2 linked regions of the Homo sapiens genome follow. The protein of the gene in region 1 interacts with the protein of each later gene in a pairwise test. Each region holds a gene or a part of one and is shown on either strand. Other genes may lie near its edges.

Region 1 (7,274 bases):
AGCACACTTGACGAGGAGCATGTGAGCAAAGAATAGCCAGTTAAAAGAAACCAGATGTTAACCTGGAAAGTATGCAGTCAGGCCCCACCCTCAGCCAGAGCTGGCTCTGCTAGGCCCTGGGGGAGGTAATGGGGTGTCCTCAGCCCTCTGAGGTTAGTCACTTGGAGGCTGGCTTGGCCCCTAGAAAGGGCAGGGGAGGGCTAGTGCTGCCTGACTCCCTCTTCCTCCTCTTCCACCTCTTCCCCTAGACTGTCTGTGTCCCAGTTTTTGTGAGGGCTTCATCCCTGGATGTTCCGGGGACCCTGGCTGTCCCCTACCCCTGCTGCCCCCAGAGTCCTGTATGTTGCAGCAGCAGCATTCTAAACACAGCCGAGGTGTGGACCCAGGGCAGGTGGGCCCAAGCCAGGGCCTGGGCTAGGGCAGAAAGGGAGGAGAGAGTTTGAATCCTGGTTCCCACACTAACCAGTTGTGGGACTTCTGCAAGTTACTTACATGCTATTCTACAAACTGTGAACTCAGAAAAATGCTTTGATGCCTCCGAGCCTCAGTTTCCTTATCTGAAAAATGGAGGCAATGTCTCAAATGGCTCTTAGGAGCTTTTGCAGAGCTGAGTGGCTAATGCCTGACATTTGGCAGATCCTCAATCCTGTGAGTAAAGAGTGCCACCCTTCCATCTGTGGGCTGCTCTCTTCAGTTCCCCAGCCATTCTAAAAGCACCTGCCTCTGTCACCCCTGGCCCCAACCCCATGAGCCCAAGATGGCCAAGAGGCTGATGCAGCCTTGGGGCTGAAGGGTTAGTGGGGAGCAGGGATGGGGGGTGGGGTATCTGCAGCTCCCTCATCTTCATGGCCCTTCTGTGGCGTCAGGAGGACAAAACCCACATGCTTAGACACATCCTTAACACAAAGAAACCTAAGCCGCTTCTTGCAGCCCAGGAAAGGACGCATTCTCCAGGCCAGGATGTCAGCCTCTACCAAGGATAAAGAGATTGCCATGGGTCCTATAGCACTGATTGTCACTGCCCTCAGGGGACATTGGGCGATGACTGGAGACATTTTTGTTGTCACGACTGGGAGAAGGTGCTACTGGCATCTGGTGGGTAGAAGCCACCACTGTAATTCTGCAAGACACAAGACAACCCCTCTAACAAAGATTGTCCAGCCCAAAGAGGCAGAGGTACCAAGGCTGAGCCACTGTACTCCACAGGGACCCTCTTGTGCTCAGTCGTGGTGTCTTTGTCACCTTCACACCAAGAGCCTGGCATCCAAGAGGTGCCCAGGAATGGTTGTGAATGAACGAATGAAGCAACTCATGTCCTATCCTCAGCTCTGCTAAGAGATGGTGATTCATGGTGTAGACCTCACACTTCCCAGTGTGTTGTTCTGTCCATGCAGGGTCCAAGAACCCAGAGCCCAAATCCAGCAGTCAAAATCCCACAGTGTTCTTGCCAGACTGGGAAATCTGGCTGCCCCGCCCTCCAGTGAGCCGGAAGCTGTGCAGGGCAGCCTTGGCTAATCACCTGCCACCCAGCACACCTGGCAGGAGCTCAGTGGGTTGATGAAATGAGGACAGAAAGAAATAGAAGATCCACAGGCCCCTGGCAGGCCCTGCTCACATACCACAGTGGGCACAAGACACGTCATGGAGCACAGGGTGTGGAAAGACCTGGGTTCAAATCCCAGCCTTGCTCCTCACCAGTCATGTGACCCTGGACAGGGGACTGACCTCTTCAGTTTTTGTCAATTACAAGTGGGGCTAATAATAGTAACACCTTCCTCAAAGGGTTAATGTGAGGATTAGAAGAGGTAATCCACTGACAGGGTTTGGTGCGGTGCTACAGACTGAAGTGGAAAAGAATCTTTTGTTTTTTTTGAGATGGGGTCATGCTCTGTCACCCAGGCTGGAGTGCAGTGGTGTGATCACAGCTCACTGCAGCCTCGACCTCCTGGGTTCAAGCCATCCTCCTGCCTCAACCTCCTGAGTGGCTAGGACCATAGGTGCATGCCACCATGCCTGGCTAATTTTTAATTTTTTTTTTATAGAGACAAGGTCTCCCCATGTTGCCCAGGCTGGTCTTGAACTCTGGGCCTCAAGTGATCCTCCCACTTCAGCCTCTCAAAGTGTTGGGATTACAGGTGTGATCCACTGCACCTGGCTAGAAAACAATCTTTGATGACCACTATCACAGTTCATTTCCAGTGCTTGCCCCTCTGCCTATAAGCCCCTGTGCCCTGGGGCTGAGCCTGGAAGAGTCTGGGAAGGCTGTAGAACACTTGCTCATTTCTTGTGGCTGTGCATCAGCACTGGGGTAGGCTCTAGGGAAAAAGAGATGCATAGAACGCAGTCCTGACTGCTGGAGCCGTTTACAGCCTGTTGGGACTTTAGCAAAGGACTATACTGGGACTAAGATGAGACGAGACTGCAGCAAGCGGTCCCAGTGCACTTGTAGGACTCTGAATGACAACTTCTTCAAAATGTGTGTGCCTGACTCACCTTAGTCCCTCCAGCGAAGGAGCACATCCTGAGAGGGGTCCAGAAGGCACAGAAGAGGACAAGATGGGACAGGGGCTGCAGGAGTCTTCAGTGGTTCCTGGAGAAGGTTTCAAGTCTGCTGCTGAACTTGGAAGAATAGGAAGAATTTCAAAAACTGCAAATTTGCAAAACTGAGGGCACATTTATACCTGGGTAGGAACCAATAGGAACAAAGCCTGCTTTGGAGGAAAGCCCTGGACAAGTTTGGGCTGGGCAGATAGTTTGTAAATTAAACCCAGAGGAGGCCGGGTGAAGTGGCTCATGCCTGTAATCCCAGCACTTTGGGAGGCTGAGGCGGGCGGATCACCTGAGGTCGGGAGTTTGAGACCATCCTGACAAATGTGGAGAAAACCCATCTCTACTGAAAATACAAAATTAGCCTGGTGTGGTGGCGCATGCCTGTAATCCCACCTACTCGGGAGGGTGAGGCAGGAGAATTGCTTGAACCCAGGAGGTGGGGATTGCAGTGAGCTGAGATTGCATCCTTGCACTTCAGCCTGGGTAACAAGAGCGAAACTCCATCTCAAAAAACAAAAAACAAAACAAAACACAGAGGAAATACATCATGATTTGAGCAAAGGAGACTTCTTTTGTAAGAGGGCAGGAGCTCAACTTCCACTAACCCTGTACCTAGGGGTTCTCTCACAGTGCCTAGAGGCTGGAGGGCTGTGAGGCTGGGGGAGAGGAAATGGATTCCCCTGACCGCTGAAGCCTGGGGGAGCAGAATAGATCCAGCCTGACACACACGCAGGATGGATGATTGCCTACAGATGCTTCATCCTTTGGTGGTGCTGTCACGGTGAGGACAGTCCCTAGTAAAATGTACAGCTGGTACCTGAAACGTGGTGTGGGGATTTGAAGGTGAACAGGATAGCTTGGTCACAGGAAGGGTAGTGACAGAGGAATAAATAAATGTCAATGTGAGGCGCTAAATGTGTCAATGGGGGCCTCCTAGAGATTGAGTAGACCCCAATAAGTAATCAACCAAGAGTGGTGGTTAGGACGAGGTAGGTATGGGTGAGTAGGAGACACATTTGGTAACAATGAGATATGTTATAAAATAGAATGGGCTGGCTGGCTGGAAAGTGAGCGGGTACCCCTTACTAGAATTCAGTTCAATTGATCCAGCATTTATCAAGCTTTCTCTAAATGCATTCTTCTGGAGTAAAACAGTAAATAGGATTTTGGAGGCTGTTATGTCAAGGGTAAGAGTATGAGATAGTTGCCCTCAAGGAGCTGAAACTCTAATGGGAAAGACAGAATTTCCCTAGTGCACAGGAGGGAGAGCACGCAAGGCTGGGGAACACCTGAGCCAAGGTACAGGCTCTGGAAGTACCGGATGTGAGCAGGGAACAAGAGGTAGACTGTGTGGCTGAAATGCTGGGTAGGTGGAGGGATGGAGGGACTGGAGAGTGGAAGCCACATTCTTTTTTTTTTTTTTTTTTTTTTTTTTTTTTGAGACACAGTAGGCTGGACGCAGTGGCTCACGCCTGTTATCCCAGCACTTTGGGAGGCCGAGGCGGGTGAATCACCTGAGGTCAGGAGTTTGAGACCAGCCTGGCCAACATGGTGAAACCCCATCTGTACTAAAAATACAAAAATTAGCCGGGCGTGGTGGCGGGTGCCTGTAATCCCAGCTTACTCAGGAGGCTGAGGCAGAAGAATCGCTTGAACCCAGGAGGCGGAGGTTGCAGTGAGCCGAGATCGTGCCATTGTACTCCAGCCTGGGCAACAAGAGCGAAACTCTTTTTTTTTTTTTTTGAGATGGAGTCTCGCTCTGTGAGTGTGAAGCACAGCGTGACCAAGTAGGAGGGTGGGAGACAGGAAGCCCTGGTGGAGGGCAAGCTGGAGGGGCCCCACAGGATAGAGAGGTCGAAGGCCTGACGGAGCAGTGGCAGGGAAGAGGGAGGGGAGGGCCACACAGGAGCCAGGCCAAGGACACGGACAGACGATTGGATGCAGGGAAGGGGGGTGGGGAGGGACTGAAGATAATCCCCAGGTTCCTAGCCTCTGGGAGCTGGCAGTTGCCTCTGGTAGGTAGGCAGAGTTCTGCAGCAGCAGGGGGCCAGGTCAGGGGACCCTGATGGCTCTCCCCTGCTCTGGAGGTCCCTGGCTCCATGGTCAGCACAGCAGTGCTCCAGAGTGGCTCTGGGGGCTTCTGAGCAGTGGCTCTTTCTCCTCCCTTCTGCCCCTGGCATAGCAGTTGAAGTCCCAGTATCCAATGCCTCAGCTCTCCCCTTCTTTCCCCCCTCCCAGGACTCACAGAAACCCTCTGTACCCAGTCATGGGCCAAAGACACCGTCATGCAAGGGGGTGAAGGCTCCACACTCGTCCCGGCCCCGGGCGTGGAAGCAGGACCTCGAGCAGTCTCTGGCAGCAGCCTATGTGCCGGTCGTTGTGGACTCTAAGGGGCAGAATCCGGACAAGCTCAGGTTCAATTTCTACACCTCCCAGTACTCCAACTCCCTGAACCCCTTCTACACTTTGCAGAAGCCTACCTGTGGCTACCTGTACCGCCGGGACACTGACCACACCCGCAAGCGCTTTGATGTGCCTCCTGCCAACTTGGTCTTGTGGCGCTCCTAGGCCTGAGCCAAACGGAAGCCCCCGACCCTTCACCCTCACCCCTGTGACCTCAGGTCCCCAAGGGGAAGGGCTGCTCACTGCAGGAGGAGTGACCTATATTCGGGCTAAGACAGCTGTGCCATGCCCACCTATTGACAATGATAAAGGGAGGTCTCTCTTCTCAGCAGCAGTTAAAGTTTGTCCTTCCTTTCCCTGGCATCTGAATGGGTGGCTGTGGGTAGGTAAACAGGCCATGGGGATGTTATACAGTAAGGTTATGTCCAGAGGTTTCTGAAGACTTGGAAGGACTTGATTCTCAGTTCCCTAACCCCAAAAGTAACCTCAACCCTTCTCCAGAGCTGAGTCCCAAGCAAAGCCCATCCTAGCTCCAGCCTCCCGATGGTCCAGGCTCGGACCCCTCCAAGGAAGAGAGGGTGGGTGTGGTGGCTCACACCTGTAATCCCAGCACTTCAGGAGGCCAAGGTGGGCAGATCACCTGAGGTCAGGAGTTCAAGACCAGCCTGGCCAACATGGTGAAACCCCGTCTCTACAAAAATTAGCCAGGCATGATGGCAGGTGCCTATAATCCCAGCTACTCGGGAGACTAAGGAATGAGAATCCCTTGAAGCCAGGAGGCAGAGGTTGCAGTGAGCCGAAATCATGCCATTGCACTCCAGCCTGGGTGACAGAGTAAGACTCCGTCAAAAAAAAAAAATTAATTTAAAAAAAGGAAGAGATCCATCAACTGGCCATGACTCCTGCTCTCTTACAAGGTCATCTTACCCTGGTTGGAGCAGCTGCTGCAGAATGAGGAAGAATGCAGGGAATGAACACAGACTCTAGGTCCCCTCCCAGACCCAGTTTTACATAAAGCTGCTGCTTCTGACTTGTAGTTTGTTGGTGGGGGAAGGATTTCCCATCCTTGCCGTCTCCTCTGGTCTAGAAGAGCTGGCTCTGAGGCTAGTTGAGCTCATGGGTCATGGGGCATGGAAGAGGGGGATGGAGGCAGAGGGCACTGGATTCACAGCAGGGGCCTGAGTGAGTTCCCAGTCACTGCCATTCAGAGGGAACCCCAGTGGTGTGCTGGAGCCAGCTTGTACTGACTTGTAAGAGCTGGTTGTGCCCATGTCTTCCCTACTCCACAATCAGTGATTTCTTTTTTTTTTTTTTTTGAGACGGAGTCTCGCTCTGTCGCCCGGGCTGGAGTGCAGTGGCGTGATCTCAGCTCAGTGCAAGCTCCGCTTCCCGGGTTCACGCCATTCTCCTGCCTCAGCCTCCTGAGTAGCTGGGACTACAGGTGCCCGCCACCACACCCGGCTATTTTTTTTTTTTTTTTTTGTATATTTAGTAGAGATGGGGTTTCACCATGTTAGCCAGGATGGTCTTGATCTCCTGACCTTGTGATCTGCCCACCTCGGCCTCCCAAAGTGCTGGGATTACAGGTGTGAGCCACCGCACCCGGCCCACAATCAGTGACTTCCTGTTGGCAGTTTGGAATCAGCTGTGGTGGGAGCATTTACACCACAGAAGTGAGCAAATGCCTACAAATTGGAGTTTCTTTTTTCCAGAGAGCTCATCATTAAACATTTACCAGCACACCACAGGGTGAATTCAGCTGGTTTCATTCCTAGGAGTCTCGTCCCTCTGTAGGTATGGTGGTGTATTCTGTGGGGCATAATTCCTGTGCAGGAGAGGTTGGGGTTGGTGTGGGAAGGAGAGACAGGTGTCCAGAGACCCCGACAAGCAGCCCACAACAAGGCCAGGCTGTCCTGTGGGCCTTTCTTTGAGAAGATGGTAAGCAGTGTGGAGGGAAGTGGAGACCCCTCGAGGCGACCCTAACAGCATAGAATCCGCGTTTTCCTCTTGGCTTGCTGTAGGCTCTCTTTTGAGTTAGAGGTTTTCCTCAAATGCCTGATGAGCCTTGGCTGGCCTCAGACCATCTGGCATCTGTACCAGGTCTCTCCTTCTGCTTGGTCATCAGTGTTCAAGGAGCCAGCCACGGGAATGAGCTGGGGTGGGGGAAGGCGCATGGTGGTTTTCTCACTGTCCATATGTAGACTTTCTTTTAACGCTCCATTTATAGAATGGCACATGTCTCTTCCTGAGGCTGTGCCTAGAGACTAGCGGCTCTCTGGCCCAAATCTCCAGAAGAACCTTCAATCAGGGTCAGGAGGGGA
Region 2 (7,274 bases), on another chromosome or scaffold:
TTGAGATACGTCCCATCAATACCTAATTTATTGAGAGTTTTTAGCATGAAGGGTTGTTGAATTTTGTCAAAGGCCTTTTCTGCATCTATTGAGATAATCATGTGGTTTTTGTCTATGGTTCTGTTTATATGCTGGATTACATTTATTGATTTGTGTATGTTGAACCAGCCTTGCATCCCAGGGTTGAAGCCCATTTGATCATGGTGGATAAGCTTTTAGATGTGCTGCTGGATTCGGTTTGCCAGTATTTTATTGAGGATTTTTGCATCAATGTTCATCAAGGATATTGGTCTAAAATTCTCTTTTTTGGGTGTGTCTCTGCCCGGCTTTGGTATCAGGATGATGCTGGCCTCATAAAATGAGTTAGGGAGGATTCCCTCTTTTTCTATTGATTGGAATAGTTTCAGAAGGAATGGTACCAGTTCCTCCTTGTACCTCTGGTGGAATTCGGCTATGAATCCATCTGGTCCTGGACTCTTTTTGGTTGGTAAGCTATTGATTATTGCCACAATTTCAGCTCCTGTTATTGGTCTATTCAGAGATTCAACTTCTTCCTGGTTTAGTCTTGGGAGGGTGTATGTGTCGAGGAATTTATCCATTTCTTCTAGATTTTCTAGTTTATTTGCGTAGAGGTGTTTGTAGTATTCTCTGATGGTAGTTTGTATTTTCTCATAGTACCGGAAGCTAGAAGTACAAGACCAAGGTGTAGGCAGGGTGGTTGCACTCTGGGGCCTCTCTCCTTGGCCTATAGGTGGCCATCTTGTCCCGGCGTCTTCATGTGGTCTTCCCCTTAGGGGTTTTTGTGTCCTAACCGCTTCTTCTTATAAGGACACCAGTCATGTTGGATTAGAGCCCACCCATATGACCTCATTTTACCTTAATTACCTCTCCTGTCTCTAAATACAGTCACATTCTGAAGTACTGGGGGTTAGGAGTTGCCTAAAAATTTTGAGGGACATGGTTTAACCCATACCATCTATTATGTGATTATATCAAAATGTATCCATCATATTGTTTGGTGGACATTTTAATTATTTCTTGTTTTAGGCTATTATGAACAGTGCTACTGTGAACATTTTCATACATGTATAGTGGTAAGAATGCCAGAATGGAGCATTCCATCCTAGGAGTGAATTGCTAGGTAGTGCCGCACAGCTGCAGTATTAATAGATGAATTCAATATGTTTTCCAAAGTGCTTGTGTTGCAGGATCCTTGGTGGCACCTTTGCTGGAGTTTTGCTTGAGCCCAGCGTTCTGACCACTGGGCCTGGCAGGCTGAGCTCGGCTGGAGCTACTGGCCCTGATCCCACGCCGGCCAAGGGCAAGCCAGGCACAGAGTGGTGAGGGGTGCATGAGCAAGCAAGCACCAGGGTCCGGCCACTGTGCATTGCCAGGCACGCTGGCTATTGGGTAGTCTGACTTTTTCTTGCTGATTTTTAGAAATTCCTTAAATATTCTTGATACAAGTCTTTGGTTGCTTATATATGTTACAAATATCTTCTCAAACTCTGTAACTTATCTGTTTTCACTGTGTCGACAGTATCTTTTGATGAATAGAAGTTCCTCATTTTAATGTGGTCAGTTTATCAATCTTTTCCTTGTTGATTTTTTTTGAATATATGTCTTGAGAATACTTCCCTGAGGTCATTGAGATATTCTTCTCTGTTATAAAATACTTACAACTTTGCATTTAGATGTAATATATCTGGCACTGATTTTTGTGCACAGTATGATGTAGGACCTGATTTCATTTTTTTCCCTGTGGATAGTCAGCTGTTCTTACATCATTAATTGAAAAGACACTCCTTCCCCTCACGGCCTGAACCACCTCTGTCATAAATTCAGTGTCTGTAATTATGCTTCGGTCTGCTGCTGGGCACCCCGTTCTGTACTATTGATCTATTTGTCTATTTCCACAAGAGGGTCACACTGCTTTGAGTCCTATACCTTTGTAGTAAGTCTTAAAATCTGATAGAGCATTTCTTTCCACTTTGCTGTTGCTCTTCCAGAGCATCTTGGCTGTTCTTGGTTCTTTCCATTTCTGTGAACATTTTGGTATCTGCCCGTTAGTTTTTACAGATAGACCTTTTAGGAGGATCTTTATTGGAATGCTTTGGCTGTATAAGATCAATTGGGGGAGAATTGTCAATTTCATGAAAGACAAAACAAAATGAACCAAAAAGTAAACACTGGGGAACTGTTTTAGATGAAAGAAGGTGAATGAGACATAGTAACTGACTGCAATGTGTTATGGTTTGTAAAAGTTATAAAGGCTTGGGACAAATAGGGAAACTTTGCTTTGAATTGTGTATTAGACACTAATATTCCAGTATTAAATCTCCTGATAAGGGTGAGAAATGCTATGTCTACCTTTTTTCTTAGGAGATACATGCTGGGGAATTTAAGGTGAAGTGTTGTGATGCCTGCAGCTAGCGCTCAATTCAAAAAGTTGAGGGAGGAGAGATGACGAGCCAGCTAGAGTGATAATGGCAAAATGTTAGCAATTGGTGAATCTCAGTGAAAGGGAAATGGGTATTCATTGATTTTCTTTTCCTGTATATATGGCATTTTTCAAAATAAAAGTAGAAGAAAATTAAATTTCATTTTGTATCTCAGGAAATAGTAGAGCGCCAGATAAACTAGTAATGCATTATCTTAGTGTGCTGTGCTAAGCAGATTTGCCACTAAAAGCACTAGTGAAATGGCAAGCATGATTGGTTATTTTAAAAATTCTCTAGTATGTTTGAACTTATTCAGTTCACATTTAAATCATACTGGAACAGCAAATGTCTGTGGGCTGGCTCTCCAAGTAAAAAATACATTAATGAGCTTTTTGTGCCAATTACTGATTTTCAGGAAATGTTCTTTAAACTACTGATAAGAGTTCTGGAGATCCATGTCATACTAACAGGTGAGCAAAGTAATTCATAGGAGTTACACTTGATGCAGTGTAATTTTGTAACACCAGGCTAAGTATTTTTTTTTTGAGAAGCATTTCCGGTGCTTGAAAACTGATATTTATATTTTTCATGAAGAATCTCAGATTCTTTGTTCTCATAGTAGGTATCTTCACAGTCTTTAAAGAAAACCTAGGTGGTTTTTGGTGTTTTTTTTTTTTTTTTTTTTCAATTTTTAGTTACTGCAACAGAGGCACATAGGAATTTAAATGATTCCATGAGTCATGCAGTGAATTGGTAATAATACTAATGGACACACAGTTATTGACTCTTCTTTGCATTGGCCTCATTTTTCCCCCAAATGTTAATATGTCATTTCTCAGCAAAATTATTTGTAAAGTAAAACATCTAACAACACCACCAAAATCTTGTAACAGCAAAAGGAAGAGCTGAGCTTCTGAAGATCAACCTTCGTGAGGTCGAATTAGATCCTGATATTCAACTGGAAGATATAGCCGAGAAGATTGAGGGCTATTCTGGTGCTGACATCACTAATGTTTGCAGGTATTTTTTTAATGATCTGTGATTTTAGACATTAGTTATAGACTTCGCAGGAGGACTGGTCTTAAAGTCAATGTAGTTAGCCCAGTGTAGTTAGACATGAAAGCAGCTACCCATTTCTTTAAAATGGTTTCCCATTTGTCCCTTTTTTTTTACATATAACTTTATTTTTCATTGTGAGATGAAAATTATATAGCAGTGGTCGTTGATGTTTTTGATCTTTGGATTTTTAAGAAATTGTTGTGTCGGTGGCTTACGCCTCTAATCCCAGCACTTTGGGAGGCCGAGGCGGGTGGATCACGAGGTCAGGAGATCGAGACCATCCTGGCTAACACGGTGAAACCCCGCCTCTACTAAAAAATACAAAAAATTAGCCAGGTGTGGTGGCGGACACCTGTAGTTCCAGCTACTCGGGAGGCTGAGGCAGGAGAATGGCATGAACCCGGGAGGTGGAGCTTGCAGTGAGCCGAGATCGCGCCACTGCACTCCAACCTGGGCAACAGAGCGAGACTCTGTCTCAAAAAAGAAAAAAAAAGAAATTATTGTGTCTAACTCGATAATAATGACTTTGACAACCTAAGATTAGTTTAGCTTTGTGTTGGAGCCTTTCTGCATCAACCTAAAGTAATATTATTTAGTTTTTGTTGGCATTATTTAAACACATGCAAATGAGCAAAAATGATCAGCGTAAGCTGGGGAAGATACACGTTTAAAATTTTTTCAGTTTAGCGACATCATAAGTTTTAGACAGTTCCTGTCACTGCAGTTATTTTTTTTCTTATTTTTCTAACTGCACTTAAATTGACTTTAGTAGCCTTTCTTTAAAGCCACAGCATCTGTTTTTCTCACCTTTTCTGCTCGCATTTTTCCCATGTGCATCCAAGTTTAGTGGCATACAATAAGGTTGCAATAGTTCCTACTGCTACTATAGCAAAATATTTAAGAACTTGACATTTTTGTTGGCTTGGCCTTCCTAATAGCTTTTTTGTGATTATGAATTATCCTTTTCTTCCAGACCTTCATATTTATTTATAGTTGGTCAAAGAGAGCTGCACATGGGATCAAGAGAAGCCAGAGTTTATGCCTTCAGTTGCCTACAAATACTCCATGTAGGGAATTCCATGTCCACTATATGTGGATATTCATGTTTCAGAGGGAGTGATTCGTGTCTTTATTCCTCTATTTAGGCTGTAGACAAACTGGTCTGTGGTTTGAATTATCTTAACATTAGCCATATGTTCATTTCCAAGTGTACAATTCAGTATTTCAAAATTTGACTTCAGTTTCCTAAACTTCTTGGCTGTCTTTGAGGAGCAAGTGGAGAAAAGAAAATTCAGTACTATTCGAGCTTAACTTAGACTTTTAGGGTTCGTTAACTATACATTTCATGTTTTTGGTTGTTTGCATCCTGTCTTAACTTCTGCTGAACCCCCAGGATGTTTCTTAAGTGGAAAATTCTAAGAAGCCTCATAAAAACATATAAAATAATCTTTTGATTTTTTTTTCATAACTTTGTTACAATTGAAAGTGTTTAAAACATGTGCAAAAATTACTGTTGACTGATTTTGGTATATTTTTAGGGATGCCTCTTTAATGGCAATGAGACGGCGTATCAATGGCTTAAGTCCAGAAGAAATCCGTGCACTTTCTAAAGAGGAACTTCAGATGCCTGTTACCAAAGGAGACTTTGAATTGGCCCTAAAGAAAATTGCTAAGTCTGTCTCTGCTGCAGACTTGGAGAAGTATGAAAAATGGATGGTTGAATTTGGATCTGCTTGAATTTCTGTCAGCTCTTTAATTTCTGGTATTTTTGTTGATAAAATACGAAGAAATTCCTGCAATTTTTAAAAAACAAGTTTGGAATTTTTTTCAGTGGAGTGGTTTTCGCTTAAAGGAAAAAAAAATCTAAAACTGCGAAGAATACTAAATGTAGTTGAGAAATAATTGATGGCGAGAGTTTGCTAGTCTCCCTCCCCGGCTTTGTGCTGGTATTCCACGTATTCCTGCATTAATATTGCACACCCAAACCAGTCTATCAGGGAGGCTGAAGCAAGGGCGCAGTGTGATATTTTAGGAATACAGAAGATTTAGAAATACCCCTATTTCTCATTTGCAGTTTTTTTTTCCAATTCTGTGCTCTGTCAACATGAGGGACCTATCTATGTATGTTGACTTTTAACATCAAAATTGGATTTGTGTCAAACATTCATTGTTAAGAGAAGAATGACAGTATATTTTGGAGGAAATAATGAATTTACTAATTAAACCTTTAGAATTTATGACTTACTGTTAGAGTCTGTCATATGGTTAGAATTTTTACTTCCGCTACCCCTGCCATTTCTTCTGCTAGCTACTTCATAATATCTTGAGCTTTACTGAGGAATATTCTCACGCTCTGTGGTATTTGAATCATTTTGCCAGGTCATTTCTCTGTCTTTAGTATTTTTTGCTGGTGCTTCTTACATTTAATATGGAAAGGTGGGAAGAATATTACTGCATTAGATGTAATTCTTCATTCTAGACTTCCAAGTTTGTTTTCACTTTTTTGTGTGTGCGTGAAGGAGTCTGTGTCACCCAGGCTGTGTAGTGCAGTGGTTGATCTTGGCTCACTGCAACCTCTGCCTCCTAGATTCAAGCAATTCTCCTGTCTCAGCCTCCCAAGTAGCTGGGATTACAGGTGCGCACCACCATGCCTGGCTGTGTTTTCACTTTTCTTTCAACATGTTCAACCAGATATATAGCCATTATTTTTCTCAGCTCCAGCATTGTTTGATTTTTCTTGAGTTTGATTTTAGTATTTGAGATAAATACTTTTACATTCTAAACAAGTCCACTCTCTGTGGCTAACGCAAAACAAATGAAATCTTTATTGTTTTCCAAACAGCTAGTTTAACAAAACAGCATCATACATAGTGAATGATGTTCATTGGAAAATTCTAAAATTTGTCCTTGTCTAGGTTGAGAACTTTTACACACACTAAGATAAAGATAGAAATCTGACATGCTCACTCAATTCAGCAGGAATTACACATTAGAAAGAAGCCAGAAAAATAAATGGCATATATCCAATCACAAGTAAATGATCCTGGCGTTAGTTTTTATGATTACATGTGTCTCATTAGGCAATTTATGCTTTAATGGTCAAGCTTTTAAAAATTTGTATTTGATAACATCCTGAATTCTCAGTTTCGAATAGTGCCTACTGGTTTAAAACTAAAAATAATACAGCTTTTTGGACATTTAACCAAGATACTAAGAAGGTTTTTTTTAAAAAAAGAGATTTGATTATTTTTCCCTGCTAAAAACTGTAAATGCCTTATGTTCTTTTCAGATAACTTAAGTCTGACCTAAACTCCAGTATTCATCTGATGCTGTAAATTGCCCTTCTTTCTGAGACACAGATTATAAGATGCCAGATCATAAGACATCATGATTTTATTGTAATTGAATTCTTCCTAAAAATTGAGAGGTTTCCTTTTATTAACTTTTAAAATAAAGAAATAAGTAGTTTCATTACGATTATTTTGCAAACTATTGCCAGTCAGAAATGCACTTTTTTTTTCCCTGAAGTTTTAGGAGCCGTCACTAAAACATTAGTCTTGTGATTGTTAAAACTTGTTTGTAATGGGTTGGTGCAAAAGTAATTGTGGTTTTTCCATTACTTTCAATGGCAAAAACCGCAATTACTTTTGCACCAGCCTAACAATAGTTGATTAGTTAGACCTTTTCTGGGTTTTGTATTGATTATCTTGGTGTGCATTTAATTATTTTTCTGAATTCTTCATGGATAATGACATAGTAATTGTGATTCTTTTA

What was found.
Region 2: the proteins of GUCA1ANB-GUCA1A (region 1) and KATNAL1 interact in binary tests that used the Homo sapiens proteins (3 or more experiments, as listed by UniProt).

Annotation. Positions count from the first base shown.
Region 1 is NC_000006.12:42,158,132-42,165,405, forward strand, and holds part of GUCA1ANB-GUCA1A (guanylyl cyclase-activating protein 1), read left to right. Parts: intron 1-4,788; coding exon of another isoform or gene 4,789-5,118; exon of another isoform or gene 5,119-5,335; intron 5,336-7,274. Other genes in the region: CIMIP3 (ciliary microtubule inner protein 3), read left to right, coding at 4,789-5,118. UniProt on the Homo sapiens protein: Stimulates retinal guanylyl cyclase when free calcium ions concentration is low and inhibits guanylyl cyclase when free calcium ions concentration is elevated.
Region 2 is NC_000013.11:30,206,503-30,213,776, reverse strand, and holds part of KATNAL1 (katanin p60 ATPase-containing subunit A-like 1), read left to right. Parts: intron 1-3,334; coding exon 3,335-3,461; intron 3,462-5,038; coding exon 5,039-5,237; 3' UTR 5,238-7,274. UniProt on the Homo sapiens protein: Regulates microtubule dynamics in Sertoli cells, a process that is essential for spermiogenesis and male fertility. Severs microtubules in an ATP-dependent manner, promoting rapid reorganization of cellular microtubule arrays.